2 separate regions of the Homo sapiens genome follow, and region 2 is linked to region 1. A link means that fine-mapping ties the variant in region 1 to the expression of a gene that starts in the linked region. Tissue or cell type: thyroid. Region 1 holds a variant in brackets; the other region holds the start of a gene. All regions are shown on one strand. Distances are from middle to middle. Region 1 has its middle 29 kb from the start of SH2D4A. Region 2 holds the start of SH2D4A (SH2 domain containing 4A).

Evidence for each region. PIP is the estimated chance that this variant, and not a neighbour inherited with it, causes the effect.
Region 2: SH2D4A starts here. The variant in region 1 is fine-mapped to the expression of SH2D4A in thyroid (GTEx, PIP 0.96).

What each region holds. Positions count from the first base shown.
Region 1 is chr8:19,280,909-19,289,242 of GRCh38, forward strand. No RefSeq gene overlaps it. Among named protein-coding and RNA genes, the nearest start is that of SH2D4A, 29 kb to the right of the region's middle. The variant A/G (reference allele first, on the strand shown) is at 4,281.
Region 2 is chr8:19,309,538-19,317,871 of GRCh38, forward strand. SH2D4A (SH2 domain containing 4A) reads left to right here and starts at 4,156. Exons shown (of 10, transcript NM_022071.4): 1 at 4,156-4,286. LOC105379306 (a long non-coding RNA gene) reads left to right here. Exons shown (of 4, transcript XR_949550.3): 4 at 2,196-2,287.

The DNA of each region.
Region 1 (8,334 bases):
AGGTTGTACTAATTTACATTCCTACCAGCAGTGTATAAGTATTCATTTTCACCACATCCACACCAACATCTATTATTTTTGACTTTTTAGCAATGGCCTTTCTGGCTGGGGTAAGGTGCTATCCCATTGTCGTTTTAATTTGCATTTCTCTGTAGATTAGTGACGTTGAGCATTTTTTATATGTTTGTTAGCCATTTGTATATCTTCTAGAAATGTCTATTCATGTCATTTCCCACTTTTAATGGGATTATTTGTTTTTTTCCTGCTGATTTGATTGAGTTCACTGTAGATTCTGGATATTAGTCCTTTGTCAGATACATAGTTTGCAAATATTTTCTCCCAGGTTGTGGGTTGTCTATTTACGCTGATGACTATTTGTTTTGCTGTGCAGAAGGTTTTTAGCTTAATTAAGCCCCAATTGTTTATTTTGATTATTGTTGCATTTGATTTTGGGGTCTTAGTCCTAAATTATTTGCATAGGCCAATGTCTAGAAGAGTTTTTCCTAGGTTTTCTTCTAGAATTTTTATAGTTTCAGGTCTTAGACTTAAGTCTTTATCCATCTTGAGTTGATTTTGTATATGATGAGAGATAGGCATCAGGTTTCATTCTTCTACATATGGCTATCCAGTTTTCCCAGAATCATTTGTTGAATAGAGTGTACTTTCCTCAATTTCTATTTTTGTGTGCTTTGTCAAAGATCAGCTGGTTTTAAGTATTTGGCTTTATTTCTGAGTTCCCTATTCTGTTCCATTGGTCTATGTAGCTGCTCTTATATCAGTACCATGCTGTTTTGGTTACTATATAGCCTTGTAGTATAATTTAAAGTTGGGTAAAGTGATGCTTCCAGATTTGTTCTTTTCACTTAGGATTGCTTTGGCTATTCAGGCTCTTTTCGGTTCCATATGAATTTTAGTATTGTTTTTCTAGTTTTGTGAAAAATCTTGTTGTTATTTTGATAGGAATTGCATTGAATCTGTAGATTGCTTTGGGCAGTATGGTCATTTTCACAGTGTTGATTCTTCCAATCCATGAGCATGGGATGTATTTCCATTTGCTTGTGTCATCCGTGATTTAACTCAGCAGTATTTTGTAGTTTTTCTTGTAGAGAACTTTCATCTCCTTAGTTAAGTATATTCCTAGATTTTTTGTTTATTTGTTTGTATCTAATATGAAAAAGATTGAATTCTCAATTTGATTATCTGCTTTGTCATTGTTGGTGTATAGCAATGCTACTGATTTGCATATATTGATTTTGTAGCCTGAGACTTTACTGCATTCATTTATCAAATTTAGGAGTCGTTTGGAGGAGTCTAGGGTTTTCTAGGTATATGATCATATCATCACCAAACAGAGACAGTTTGACTTCCTGTTTTCCAGTTTGGATGCCGTTTATTTCTTTTGCCTGACTGCTCTGGCTAGGACTTTCAGTACTATGTTGAACAGAAGTGGTTAAAGTGGGCATCCTTGTCTCCTTCCATTTCTTAAGAGGAAGGCTTTCAACTCTTCTTCATTCAGTATGATGTTGGCTGTGGGTTTGTCAAATATGGCTTTTGTTATTTTGAGGCATGTTCCTTCTATGCCTAGTGTTTTGAGGGTTTTTATCATAAAGTGATGCTGGATTTTATTGAATGCTTTTTCTGTGCCTATTGACATAACCAGATGGGTTTTGTTTTTAATTCTGTTTATGTGGTGGGACCATATTTATTGTATAGTGTATATTGAACCATCCCTGCATTCCTAAGATGAAATCCACTTGATCATGGTGAATTATCTCTTTGATGTGCTGTTGGATTCACTGTGCTAGTATTTTGTTGAGGGTTTTTGCATCCATGGTCATCAGGGATATTGGTCTGTAGTTTTCCGTTTTTGTTATGTTCTTTCCTGGCTTTGGTATCAGTGTGATACTGGCTTCATAGAATGAATTAGGAGGATTCTCTCTTTCTCAATCTTTTGGATTCATTTCAGTAGGATTGGTGCCAATTCTTCTTTGTATGTTTGGTAGAATTTGGCTGTTAATCCATCTGGCCCTGGGCTTTTTTTTGTTGTTGGCAAATTTTTTATTACTGATTCAGTCTCACTGCTTGTTATTGACCTACTCAGGATTTTATTTTTCCTTGATTATTCAAGCTATGAGAATTGTATGTTTCCAGAAATGTATTCATTTCTTCTAGATTTTCTAGTGTGTGCCTAAAGATGTTCATATTTGTCTCAAAGGATCTTTTGCATTTCTATGGTTTTAGTTGTAATGTTTCCATTTTTGTTTCTAATTGAGCTTATTTACATCTTCTTTCTACTGGGTTAATCTAGTTAATAATCTATCAATTTTGTTTATTTTTTCAAAAAACCAATGTTTCATTTCATTGATCTTTTGTATTTTTTTGTTTCAGTTTCATTTAGTTCTTCTGTGATCTTTGCTATTTCCTTCCTCCTGCTACTTTTGGGTTTGGATTGTTTTTGTTTCTCTAGTTCCTTGAGGTATGACATTAGGTTGTTAATTTGTGATCCTTCAGACTTTTCGATGTAGACATTTATAACTACAGGTTATGAGGTTTTGATAACTTGTGTCACTGTTACGATTCATTTTGGAGGATTTTTAAATTTCCGTCTTGATTTCATACCCCAAAATCACCTAGGAGCATACTGTTTAATTTCCATATGTTTGTATAGTTTTGAGGGTTTCCTTTAGAACTGATTTCTAGTTTTAGTCTGCTGTGGACTGAGAAGATACTTAACATAATTTTGATTTTTTAAAATTTACTGACCTTGTTTTGTGGCCTATCATCTGGCCTACCTTAGAGAGTGTTCCACGTGCTGATGAGAATAATGTATATTCTGCAGTTCTTGGGTAGAATGTTCTGTAAATATCTGTTTGGTCTATTTGTCCCAGAGTGCAGGTTAAGTCCAGTGTCTCCATGTTGACTTTCCCCCTTGATGATCTGTCTAGTGCCATCAGTAGAGTGTTGAAGTCCCCCACTGTTATTGCATTGTTTAATTGATCCTTTTATCATTATATCTTCTTGTATAATTGATCCTTTTATCAGTATGTAATGTCCATTTTTGTCTTTTTTTACCATTGTTGTTTTAAAGTCTGTTTTATTTGATGTAAGAATAGCAACTCCTGCTCACTTTTATTTCCATTTGCACAGAATGTTTTTTTACTCATTTACCTTGAATCTGTAAGAATTCTTATGTATTAGGTGTGTCTCTTGAAGAGAGCACATATTAAGTTTGTGATTTTTAAAATCCATTCTGCCAATCTGTATCTTTTAAGCGGAGCGTTTAGACTACTTACATTTAATGCTGTTAATATTGAGATGTGAGGTACGGTTCCCAAAATCATGTTGCTTTTTATCTAGTTACTTTGTTTTCTTCATTTGTTATTGTTTTATAGGCCCTGTAAATTTTAGGCTATCAAGAGTTTATACTCTAGTGCATGTGAACCTTTTTTTTTTTCTTCAAGATTTAGAACTCTTTTTAGCACTTTTTTTTGTAAGACTAGTCTGACAGTGACAAATTCTCTCAGTATTTGCTCATCTGAGAAAGACTTTATTTCTCCTTCATTTATGAAACTTAGTTTTGCTGGATACAAAATTCTTGGCTGAGAGTTATTCTCTTTAAGGAGACTAAAGATAGGAGCCCAATCCTTTACAGCTTATAAAATTCCTGCTAAGAAGTCTGCTGTCCGTCTGATAGATTTCCCTTTATAGGTTACCTGATGCTTTTTTGTCTCACTGCTCTCAGAATTTTTTCTTTCATGTCAACATTAGATAATCTGATGACTATATGCCTTGGTGATGTCCTTCTTCATAACTCTCTCAGTAGTTCTTTGAGCTTCTTATATTTAGATGTCTAAATCTCTAGCAAGGCAAGGGAAGATTTCCTCAATTATTCCTTCAAATACATTTTCCAAACTTTTTGCTTTTCCTTCTCCTTCTGGAACACCAGTGATTCTTAGGTTTGGCCATTTCACATAATCCTGTATGTCTTGAAGACTTTGTTTCCTTCTTTAAATTCTTCTTTCTGCTGTCTGATAGGGTTTATTCAAAAGCCTTGTCTTCAAGCTTTAAAATTATTTCTTCTACTTGGTCTAGTCTATTGTTAAAACTCAACTGCATTTTGTAATTTTCTAATTGTATTTTTCATTTCCAGAAGTTCTGATTGGTTTTTCTTTAAAATATCTATCTCTTTAGAACATTTTTCATTCATACCCTGAATTCTTTTAATTTCTTTACGTTGGTTTTTGCCTTTATTTTCCATCTCCTTTAATAACTTAATAATC[A/G]ACCTTTTGAATTTTTTATCTAGTATTTCAAAGCTTTCATCTTGGTTTGGATTCATTGCTGATCTTTTGAGGAGAGTTATAGAACCGTATTTTTTCATATTGCCAGAATTATTTTTCTAGTTTCTTCTCATTTGGATAGACTATTTCTTCTAATCATTTTGAAATTTTTTTTCATTTGACTGTGCTTTAAAAAAAATTTCAGGTTTTTTTCCCCCCTTAAGGATGTGGCTTTAATATTTATAGTTTATTGTAACCTAATTTGGCTCTGGGTGCTTTCAGTGGTGAAGATTCTGTATGAGTTCCTTGGCTATAGAGAGTCTCTGTGTGATCACATTCTCAGGTGCTAGTTGTAGTAACAATGTGCTCTGTGTGTGAGTGGCTTCACTGTCTCCTGTGAGGCTGAAATGGCAGAGGTCTCATGAAGCTTATCTCATTACCCAGTGGTGTGCACTTATTTATTTATTTTTCCCCATTTATTTCCTCACTGGGTTGAATAGTTTAGGCTTCAGGCCAGTAGGAAGTTTCCACAGGTAAAAAGTAGCTGTGGCTAAAGCAGGTGGGTAAACATAACACCCAATGGTGGGCAGAGGACCCAGCCTTGCCAGAGGCAGCTGGGGAAGCTCTCAGTGACATGTGTTGAGACCTTTTTGGGGAAAGGATGGGAGCCACTTTAGTTCTCCTACTAGGCCAGCAGGAAGGTGATCCACCTGTCAGTCACACTTCTTACCTAGTGTTCTAGCCATTCAAATCAAACAAGCACTTCTTTTTATCTGCAGGAATGCTGATGTTCCACATAGATGGGTCTTGTGACTGTACCCCTCATGCAAACTTAAACCTGGATGGCACTCCTCTTATGGGGATGTAGTCACCCTGAAGTGTTACAGAAAGGCTGTCTACAGCTGCACCCATGCTGAGCTCCCATGGGCGAAGCCTCCGCTGTGTCTGCAGTGGTGGGTGAGAGGAAGAAGAAGTCTCCTTTTCCAAGATGCTTCATGAGCCTTGGGGCTGCCTGAATGTTGGGGTAGAGCTGCAGACTTTCCCCACTGAGCCCAGCATTCCACTTGTGTCTCTGCTGAAACATTTTGTAAGCAGAAAGTTCCAGGACTCAAGTCCTACCGACTGGATTCTGTTATCCCACAGTATGCTCCCTTAATGTGGTGCATTCTCCCTTCCCTTAGAAGTAGGAATCCCTGAGAGCTAGACTACTGTGAATCCTGCTGCTTCTCTGGGTCTAGCTGTGCAGTGGGACTGCCACACTTCAGGCTGGTGCTAGGGGATGTCCACAAAAGATCCAGTGATGTGACCTCTCTTTTAGCCTTCCAGCAGCAGGTACCAGCAACAACTCTGATGGTGTTGGAATGGGAATGATGTAGACTCTGTGAGATTTCCTTCCTTATAAATCACCTTAGTATGTTGTTCTTCTCAAATGCCAGGTGTACTGGTAACGTACTGGTCATGTAGACAGAGTGAAGCCTTCCTGGTTAGGCAGGGTGATGCAGGCTTGGGTAATAGCTAAGGTTGTGCAAAAGTGTACTCGTTCCTAGGCACTGTGTTACTGTACCTGCAAATGTTGTAATGGCATGTATTGGTTGGCCTCCAGCTAGGAGGTGGTGCGTGCTTGCAAAAGAATGCCAGTTGCAGTGGTACTGGTGGGATTTGTGCTTGCCTTATGTTATCCAGGGGAGGTATTCTGGTGTCTCAGACAATGGGTGGCACCATGGAGCTCTCAAAATTACCTGTCCTTTATACTAAGCTACCAGGGTAGGTAGAGGGACAAAATCAGGTGGCGCTGGGCCAGGCAAGGCTGTATCCTACTTTCCCATGTACAGGTGCAAGCAGCGGCCCCAGTGGAGATTGGAGGGCGGTTCCCTGGCTACTGGGGTAATAATCCAGGTGGACCAAAGCTGCCTCTGCTGCACAGAAGAATCTGCACAAGGAGTGGGGAGGAGCAGGCAGCAGTAAGCCCTATCCAGCTCCCATGCGCTTGGCAAGGCAGGTCTCACACATGCAGTGTTCCACCAGCAGCAGCTAGCTGGGTTGGAGTTAGCCTGCACTCTGAACCCAGAACTGCCCCAGGCTATAAACCTTCCCTATCCAGACAGAAACTGAGGTTTTCCAACTACACTTCTCCTGGTCTGCCTGTGAAACAGCACAATCAGCTCCTGCACGTGTGGCTAAAGCACACACACTGCTTGTGCCTCAGTTCTGGACAAGGGGGTTCATCACCACTCAAAATTATATCACAAATCTCAGTTGGGAGCTTCTCTCAACCTGTGACCACCACCTGAGTTAGCTGGCTGATTTCTGCAAGGTCCCCTATTAGGTAGGATCATGAATGGCTTCCTTCTGTCCCTGCTGGAGTCTGGGAATGCACAAAAAGCACATCCCAATGCTGCTCCTTCTCATACACTCCCTACCGCTTACAAAATCAGCACTGGGCAGGGTTAAGGCCTCACCCCATGGCCTGGATTGCCAGGCCCCACAGTAGGAGTGAATATCATGGAGGCAGCGTCTTCCACCTCATGCTCTAGGGACTCACAGTTTTCTGCCTGGCTCATTCATGGTGTAGGCTGCCGCCTTCTGCTTCTTTCAAAGGGTCTGTAGTTTCTTTCCGTTGTTTTGTTAAGTTCTTGTGTTGCTTCTTTGAAAAAAGTTCACAGCATAAATCCCTACACTCTATTTTGTCTTTCCAAGGGGAGAGGCAGGCTAACAGTGTCTCCAATCCGCCATCTTGGAAACAAAATGTTTTCCCCTTATTTTTTAATTAGTTCAGAACTTGAGGGGGAAGAAAAAGAGTGGCACTATTTTGGGGGGACTCTTCAAGAACTCCAATTTAAGACTTTGGCAAATATTTTCTGATGATGAAACTACTATCTGATAGAGCAGAGGGAGAGAGCTGTCTAAAGAATCATGTAGCCCCAAGAGGAGGCTCTGGAAAGGAAGTGTATACAGGAAATGCAGGAAAAAGAAAATAAGGCAAGACTTATGATCGTCATGTATCTGAATTAATCATTGTTCTGATTCCTACTTTACTGATTAGGTATCAATAAAGCTGCACAAGGGAAAGCAGTTTGTTTTGTTTCATTGCTGAATTTTTAGCGCTTAGAGTTCTGCCTGGCACATAGTAGTTGGTCAATGAACACTTTTTAAATAAACAAATAAAATGCAATTGCCCGTGGTGGAATTATAGATTTCTTTTACAGGTGACTACACTGAAGCCAAGGGAACTTGATTACCCAAACAGAAACTGCTAATTCATGGCAGAATCCAGGCTTCCTGGACGCTATTAAAATGCTTTTTCCATTATAACATGCTGCTCCCCTGGGTAGCCTCCCACCTACAAGCCCTTGCCAAATTATCTTACCTCTAATCTAATTAACTTTAAAGCTCTTTATTCTCTGACTTTAATGTTTTGGGCTACTCCAGCAAAGTGGTTGCTCTCCCCAAAAAAATGACTCTCTGAGTCTCTGTGCATTTTCTTCCCTCTACCTGGAATAGACAGCGACTCATCAAATCTTTAAGTTTCCATTCATAAACCTTCTTGCTTCCAAGAACCTCTTCCTGATCAACCTTATTCATCTTTAGTCATACGTTAAGGCATTTATTTTACCTACTTGTAAATATTTTCATAACTACATTATTTTTACTTAAACTTTAGGTAGAACTAAAAACATATTGGAGTGGGCACCCAGATCTCATCTATTTGCCTTTCTCTGGAAATTGTCACCTAGCTTCATTCCTACCCAAAACACAGGGTGAGCCAATAGCTATGGCTGTACTTGAAGATCCAATCTTCCTGGTCATAGTGATGAATCCAGGTGTGAACAGCTGACCCACCCTGGGCTGAGCAGACTGCCTGTTCTAGAAATTGAAAATTCCAAGTTGAGAGACGCAGAGGGAAAGAAGGGGATTGGAGGGAGGGAAGGGGATTGGAGGGAGAGAAGGGAATGGGAGGGAGGGAAGGGGATTGGAGGGAGAGAAGGGAATGGGAGGGAGGGAAGGGGATTGGAGCGGGGAAGGGGATTGGAGGGAGGGAAGGGGATTGGAGGCAGGG
Region 2 (8,334 bases), 29 kb after region 1:
AGAGAGAAGCTAGGAAATGGAAACGCATTTCTGAATCTGGTCCAAAAAAGAGATGAGATTTGATTTTATGAGTCTAGTAGACCTTATCAAAACTGCCTGGGAAGATCCAAGGAACACCAGAATATTAGAAAAAGTTTGCTTCTGCTCCTTTCTCAGAGCTTTGACCCATAAAAAAGCACTGGTTACCATAGGCCACTGCAGATGTCCCATATCGTTGGGATAGCGACTGTCCAATTCCACCCATAAGTTTGAGGTGAGCAGTTCTCTGAGACACGGGCTGCTTGTCACTGTATTACAGAAATATAAGAAACCACCGGGCATGGTGGCTTACACCTGTAATCCCAGCACTTTGGGAGGCTGAGGCATGCAGATCACGAGGTCAGGAGATTGAGACCAGCCTGACCAACATGGAGAAATCCTGCCTCTGCTAAAAATACAAAAAATTAGCCAGGCGTGGTGGCACACACCTGTAGTCTCAGCTACTCTGGAGGCTAAGGCAGGAGAATCACTTGAACCCGGTAGGTGGAGGTTGCAGTGAGCCAAGATCGTGCCACCACACTCCAGCCTGGAGACAGAGCGAGACTCCATCTAAAACATATATATACACACATACATACATACACACACATACATATATACACATACACATACACACACACACACACACATATATATATGTATATATATATATACACACACACATATGAGAGACCAGAAATGTCTAATTAGCAACTCAGAGTGTGGATTTTAGAGAAAGAACTCCATAAAGGTAACTCTTGGAAAAACATTAAATATTACAGTAATGTAATTGATTCAAAGATGAATGTAAAGACCAATAATTTATCTTGGTGTTTATGAAGATGAAGAAATAAAGGCCCATACAGAACCATACACAAATGAAAATAGTTCAAAATCAAATCTAACTGCTCACAGAGAGCTGAAAACACAGCAGACCCTAAATATATTTTTAATGATTGATGAACTGATTAAGATTTATTTTGAGATTTGATCAGTTTTTAGTAAAGTTTAAATGTTTTTGTATTTTTCTTTCATTTGTACGTTACATTCACTGTGGTACAAGTGTATACCTGCTCTAACAGTTAAAAAGTGGTTGAGGTTTCTGATGCTGATCATAAAATATGACAGGAAAAATACTCTATTTTATAAAGAAAACATATGAAGGCAATTTTCATTGTCTGTAGAACTGAAATAAGGATTAATCTTTATCTCAGAAAAAGTGCAAAGTGGCTTATCCTGTCTTTCTGGCAACAATAGGGCTGGCAGTGTTGCACAACTCCAGGGGGCGCCTTACACATAGTGATCTCTGTGCTTGTCCCCTGCCCACCCACAGTTGTACAAGGGCCATGCTATGCCATTTTACTTGACAGCCCTGGGCAGCAGGGCTCCTAAGCAACAGTCCAAAAGGAAGGCCAAGGAACACATCCATTAAAATGTAGGCTATTTGTTTCATGGTATTCATTACCACGAATAAATGACAAATTAAAAATATTAGTAACCAATAAATAGATGTTTAGCTTTCTCTTTAAGTTCTGGCAGTGAACGCTGCAGCAGAGCATTCCTGAACACATGTTGGTGCTACCATGTTCCATGTCTGTGACTCGTCAGTGGCCAGCCCCTGTCAGCAGTCTTCCCCACATTCGTCCCTATAACACATCCTAGATCATGGAGGGGGGAAATGTTTTCCTCTGAGAGTACTGGCCCAAAGGGAGGGAAAAAGTAACTGAAGGCCCCACAAGTAATAGGCCACCTGATTTTTTTTTAGAGCATTATAAAACATTCTTGGCCAGGCGCAGTGGCTCACGCATGTAACCCAGCACTTTGGGGGGCCAAGGTAGGCAGATCACCTGAGGTAAGGAGTTTGAGACCAGCCTGGCCAACATGGTCAAACTTAGTCTCTACTAAAAAACAAACAAACAAAAAAAAAAAACAAAAACAAAATACAAAGTTAGCCAGTTGTGGTGACAGGTGCCTATAATCCTAGCTACTTGGGAGGCTGAGGCAGGAGAATCACTTGAACTCAGGAGGCCGAGGTTGCAGTGAACCAAGATTGCATCACTGCACTCCAAGCCTGGGCAAAAAGAGTGAAACTCCATCTCAAAAAAAAAAAAAAAAAAAAAAATTCGAATTGTCTACTTTTGAAATTAAGGGAAAAACATCTACCTTTTCTCTTCCAGACCATGCCAATTAAAAGAGGAAATTCCAGGAGTCAGCAGAAAGGAAACAAAAAGAGAAGGTGATAGAGGAGAGGGGAGACCAAGTGAAGAGGATGGAGAAGAAACTATAAAAATAAGAGAAGAAGAAGAGTTCATGGCAAATATAGGAAAGAGCCACGAGACAAGAAGGATGGAAATGGGCAGATGAGAGAAAAGGGAAGAGAGTCTGGGTTCTGAGTTGTTTGCATTATTTGTGTACAGCGTGCGTTCCTTTGGGCTGTCAATATTATTTCAAGATAGAAGCACCAAGGTGTTTCCTTACCTAATCTCTGAAGTGGCAGACCATCATCACTTCTGCCGGGTTCTATTGGTCAAGCATACCAACCTTTACAAAGTGGCAGGGAGCTATGCAAGGATGTGAATACCAGGAGGATAGGATCCCTGGGAATGACTTGGAAGGTAGGTGGCATGGTGGGCAGAACCCACAGCCTAGGGTGAGATGGCAGGAATGTGGAATTCCAGTACCTTAATGTGATATGAACTGATCTGAGTGAATGTGTTTGAACACTCACCACATGCCAAGAGCTCTTCTAATCTCTTTGCATGTAGCATCTCATTTAACCCTCTTGACAACTTACCGAGGCAGACACTCTTTATCTAGAGGAGGAAAGTGAGGTACAGAGGTTAGTAGCACAGTGATAAAGCTGTTATAAGGAAGGACTTGCCAGGACCTGGAGAGAGACTGGGTGTGAGGAAGGTAGGCTGTCACAGTGTCCTGTGGGATTTTTCCTAACTGATAAACCACCCTGTATGGTTCAACTGATGCATCCATGCAGGGCTAGGATTCATTCTGACCTCGTCATAGCAGCTTTCCAGGGGCCAATCCCACTCCAGCCTAAAGCACCCCATATGCTATCATTTAAACTGCAGTAGGAACTAAGCCTTACACCAGAAATTCCTCCCTGATGGGATTCCTGGAATTGTTCCTAAATAGCTGGGTCTTATTTCCTGACAATGCCGCCTGCCCCGAGGCTTGATGTAACTCTGCACAGCTTCTGCAGTTTGGAGAGGCAGGGAAATGCCATTTTGTGTTTGAATCCAGCAGGTCAGGCTCCTAAAGAGGTCAGGTAGTCCGTGGAGAGGACTACTGGTGTTTACTGTTTATTACATCTCTCCCAATACACAAAATCTGGGGTTCACCAAAGCAGGCGGTTTTCTTCCACATGCTCCTCTAGGATGGAAAATGCCCTCCAGTGGAAATGCCTTTCCACTGTGCTTCTGCTCAATTTTCCTCCAAGATTTCCTCTAACTGTGGACTGCCAGCTCCTCCCTGACGTCTTCAGGCACCAAGCCAACCTGTTCTTGTTGCAATCCTCAAGACTCCTTTCAGCATCTTAACTTTTCCCCCAGTTTTCTTTCATTTTCTCCACCTGTCTGTGTTGACTGCGGTCTCCTTCCTTCCAGCCTTTTCCTTCCTTCATCTTGTCCTACAAAGCCACACGTGTACCGACAAGTGCCAAAGAGTTTGATCATTTACTTAATGTCAACAAAAGAAAAAAAAAAAAAGCTCCAGAGTCGCCTTGGCCTGCAGCACCCAAGCAGAGTGAACAAGTGGGGCCTGCGCACCCTCCTACCCTACACCTAGCAAGGAACCCCGAGCTCTGAAACGTGGAAAGGCCCAGATCTGCAGATTTAATCTAAGTCCTGCAGTCCCCAAGAGATCACAGACTGCAGATCCCTGTCTCATGAACTAAGAGAGGAGAGGACAAGCCTACCCCGGACTACCGCAGCTCGGGGACAGCGCGCGGGCCAGGCGGCCCGAGATGCGCAGGCCACGCAGCCTCGCCGACGAGTGGCCCTGGAGAGCCTCCAGGCGCCCGGGTGGGGCCGCGATTGCGCCCCGCCAGTCACCCCGGCATGTGGGCGCGGCGGGGCGGCGCGGGCGGGACGGCTACAAGAGCTGTTTTGCGTCCGGGCCGGAGTATTTGCTCAGCCCGCCTGCGCCGCTTGGGACGCCTCTGCCTTTCCCTCCCTCCCTTCCCCGACGGCTTCTGGCGGCCAAGTGGATGTGGCGGGTGATCGAGCCACCCTGCCCAGGGGCGCCCAGCACTGGTAGGTGCTGGGGGTGGGGCGAGGCTTTGGGGAGAGTGTGCGTGGGGTGGGAGTAGGGGGAAGGGAATTTCCTCGGAGGTTGCATGGGTGCATGGGAGGCGCAGGGGCCAGAGCGGGCGGGCGGAAGCCTCACCCCCGCCTCCACCCCTTCGCGGCGCCCGGGGCGGGCTCAGGTGCGGGGTTGGGCGGCGAGAGCGGCCGCGGCGGGTGTCCGGTGTCCGGTGTCCGGTGTCCGGTGTCTGGAGCCGCTGGCTAGGTGAGCGGCGGTCCCCGGGGCCTGGGGGCTTGCAGGGGGTGGCGGGGGAACTTCGAGGGAGAGGGTCTGCCGGGGCTGAGGACCTTCGGGGAAGTTCTGGAATCCGGCAGGGACACGCGGCGCGTGCTTCCACCCGCGGGGAGTGCAGGCCCCGGGAGGGTCCGGGCTGGCCTAGAGTTTCTAGACTCCTAGCAGGAGCACGTCCTCGACTTGCGCATGGAAATCTTCCAGGAGGGAAGTCCCGGGAAACGGTGGCAGCTGGCGCAGCACCCCCGCAGCACGTTCCCCGCGCACCGGCACCCAGGGGCGCCCCCACGTGGGGTCTGGGAGCGCGCGGAGGCCAGTGCAGCGCCGCCTCCCTCGGGCTGCAGCGGCGGGGCTGGCCCAGACCCAGACCGGGTGCCCAGTGCGCTCAGCCAAGCGGCGCCCCTGCCCGCTCCTGGACTCGGGGGTCACGCGGGCACCGGAAGGAGCTACAGTTTGTAGGTTTTCTGAGTTGTCTCTCCCTTCCCAGGGAGCTTAGAGAAGCAGCAAGCGTGGCACCTCCCCCTTTCAAACAGATGCTCCTCATCGCTCCAAAGGCTTTCGTTTGATTGCTGGTTTAATAGAAACAACGACTTGGGTACGATTATTTTAAAATAGTGAATAAATAAGTGGAAAGCATACAGGGGCATAGATTTGGCATATGAGTGGAATTCTCTATGTATACTAAATCTGTGTGTACAGTAATCTCAAATTTCTGAAGAATAGTATATATTTACAAACTGCTGTCATCTCTGGTAATTTGTTTCATCCTCAAAAACAGCCCTTTTGCTGGTAGATGAATAAGATAAAGTTTCAATAAGAAAACAAAGTTGGACCACAGAGCTGGCTGTTTTAAAAGAATTAGAATTCAAACTGTATTGTTAATGTTATAGTTACACTGTCCATACCACAATACTTTTATTTATTTTTTATTTTATTAGGTCGGTGCAAAAGTAATTGCGGTTTTTACGTAAAAAAAACCGCAGTTACTTTTTTTTTGGCCATGTAAAACACAATAACTTTTGCACCGACCTAATGTTTTTAATTTTTGAGACAGGGTCTCCTTCTGTCACCCAGGCTGTGGTGCAGTGGTGCGATCTCGGCTCACTGTAGCCTCAAACTCTCCAACTCAAGAGATCCCCCCACCTCAACCTCCCAAGTAGGTGGGACTATAGGTGCGGGCCACCACGCCTGGCTAATTTTTATACTTTATGTAGAGACGGAGTTTTGCCATGTTGCCCAAGCAGGTCTTGAACTCCTGAGCTCCAGCAATCCACCCATGTCCACCTCCCAAAGTGTTGGGATTACATGTAGAACCACTGTGCCCGCCTACTATTTTTATGATTTAGCCTGTATCTAAGGCCTTTTAAAATTGTATTTTGTTTAGGTCTCAGAGTTATTCAAAAGACAGTTGTATTGTAGAACAGTGTGAAGGTGTGAGAATCAGGCCAAATCTATGGTATCATGGAAAACAACGGATTCTCTGACCTTTTAGCAATTGGTGTTCAGAATAAATAGCAGGTGTGGGCTTGTTGCTTATCATTTCTCTCTTTTAAGAAAGGGGCTGTGTTAGCTGAGCTATTCCTTTGTTGGATCTTGAATAACCGGAGATTTGCTGCCCTTGATATAGTATGGGAAAGTCCTCTGAGTTTGAATCAGTATCAGCAATGATTACTTCCTTGTCAGGGAGTGAAAGTAGGAAAGCCCTAGTTAGTTAATTTCCTGATTTCTATTTCTTCTACCCTGGCTCCACCAGGCTCCTTCGCTTCACAGTAGATTATGTCAGATACCCACACATTAGAAGTCACAGACTGAACCAGTCCTCGTTTCACAGATGAGGAAACTGAGTCCCAAGGAGGTGAGGTGACAGCACAGAGTCACACCGCTCACTAGAGGCGGAGCTGGGAGTTGAGGCTGGAGTGCCTCTGGGTGTCTTGGGTGTACTGTGCTGAGCTTGAGTTGGGGTCTGAGAAAGCCTTGGAGCGGGGGTTAGGGGTTGGGAATTAGAGGGTGAGGGGGACAGGTGATTTACACCAGTACCATTCAGCAGTGGCAGAATGGCCACATCGTCAACGGCCTGACCACAGATAGTTGTCGGCTGGGTCCCCCAAGTATTCTTGGAGGCACAAGGAAGCCAGTGTCTTTCCTTCAAGATGAACTAGTTAATTTTAATGTTAGAAATCCACGTTTGCTATAAAAAGTAAAACAAAACAACATAAAAATGGAAATAATGTGAGAATTTCATCACAGAGGTGCCATGAACCTCCTTGCACATGTGAGAGGCTGTGCTTTTTGTGCTGTTCTTAGTGTTTGTTTGGAAGGGGAAATTGTAGAGACGAAGTGGATGACTAAGTGCAAGGGGAAATGGGACTAAGTGTCTGGTGAATACGTGGGTAAGCAATGTCCACACCTGGGTCAGTGTGACAGTCGGTTCCTTGCTGTCCTTCCTGGCTGGGGTGTGTGCACCTGGCCTCCCCTAAGCTTAGCTACAGTTGACCAGGAGGAGGCTTCTGCCCTGTGTCAAGCACCATCAGTTCAGCGTTTCTGTTGCTGCAGGAATTTGCTGGCTTCCATTCTGAAATTTCATACATGGCACCACATCCTGCTGTTCTGATTCTGGGCACACAAATAAACTCACAAAAAGGCCTCTGTGTTGTGTATTACAGTGAAGCTGAGTTAGAGCTGGACTGCCCGGCTCTGCCGCTTACCAGCTGCTGACCTGTGCTCTATCTTCCTAATCTGTGAGATGGGCATAGTGATGGGCTGGACTCCAAGGGTTATTGTGAAGATTAAGTGAGTTAACACATGTAGAGTGCTTAATTAAGATGGTGCCTGGTACAAGAAGTGTTAGCTGTGTTATCAGGAATATGCAGGGCGGGGGAGACTGGAGGAATATGACTTTGACACTTTAAGGGTTTTAGATTCTAGGATCTACCCATGCCTTGAATAGGATTCGCTGCATTCAAAATGGGGAACACAGCAGAAGTCTCAACCCCAGCTGAACTGTTCATCTTCTGCCGTGTGTGATTTCTGCGAAAACCAACCATTGAACTTAAGGACATTTACTGGAATGTCAAGGAGTCATTCTGTCTCCTTTCTTACCACTTTATCTTGGAGCTTGTGGATTTCATTGGCTCCACCCTTTGAGAAGCTGCTAGAAACAAAAAGTCAAAAGTCAAGAAATCTTGACAAGACATCCATTTTTTTTTTTTTTTTTTTTTTTGGCTGTTCAAGCCTTTAAGGGTATCTCAATGCAAAATACAAAGTTGGCAAGTGGATCTGGGAAGGGCGTGATATTACTTTTAGTCCTTTAAAATTTTTCTCTTAATGTTTGGTTCCATTTGGATTCTGGTAGTTGAATGCTGCCGAGATGATAGGTTGCAGTCAGTAGGGATAGGTGTAGTTTCATCAAGGGCCTGGCTTCACAATGAACAGTCAGCGAATCTAAGAGCTGAGTATGCACACCACTCTGTGGTAGCCTAGCTGTTGAGCGTGCTTGTCTCAAAAGACAGGTGTAAATCAAGGAACTACTTTGCACGGAAGAGGAGGAAGACGGGAAGCTGAAGGAGGCCCCCAGATGGTGAGAGGGGCATTACAAATCTAACTGTATCAATGACAAGGTGAACGAAGAGAAACCAACAACACTACGATGGTCATAATATAGCTAAGTGACTTGTCTGAAGTTTAAGACTGTTTGAACATAGTATGGAGAAACAACGTATTTGAGAGCACATGGCAAGGTGGTAAGATTATTGAGGTGTTATTATA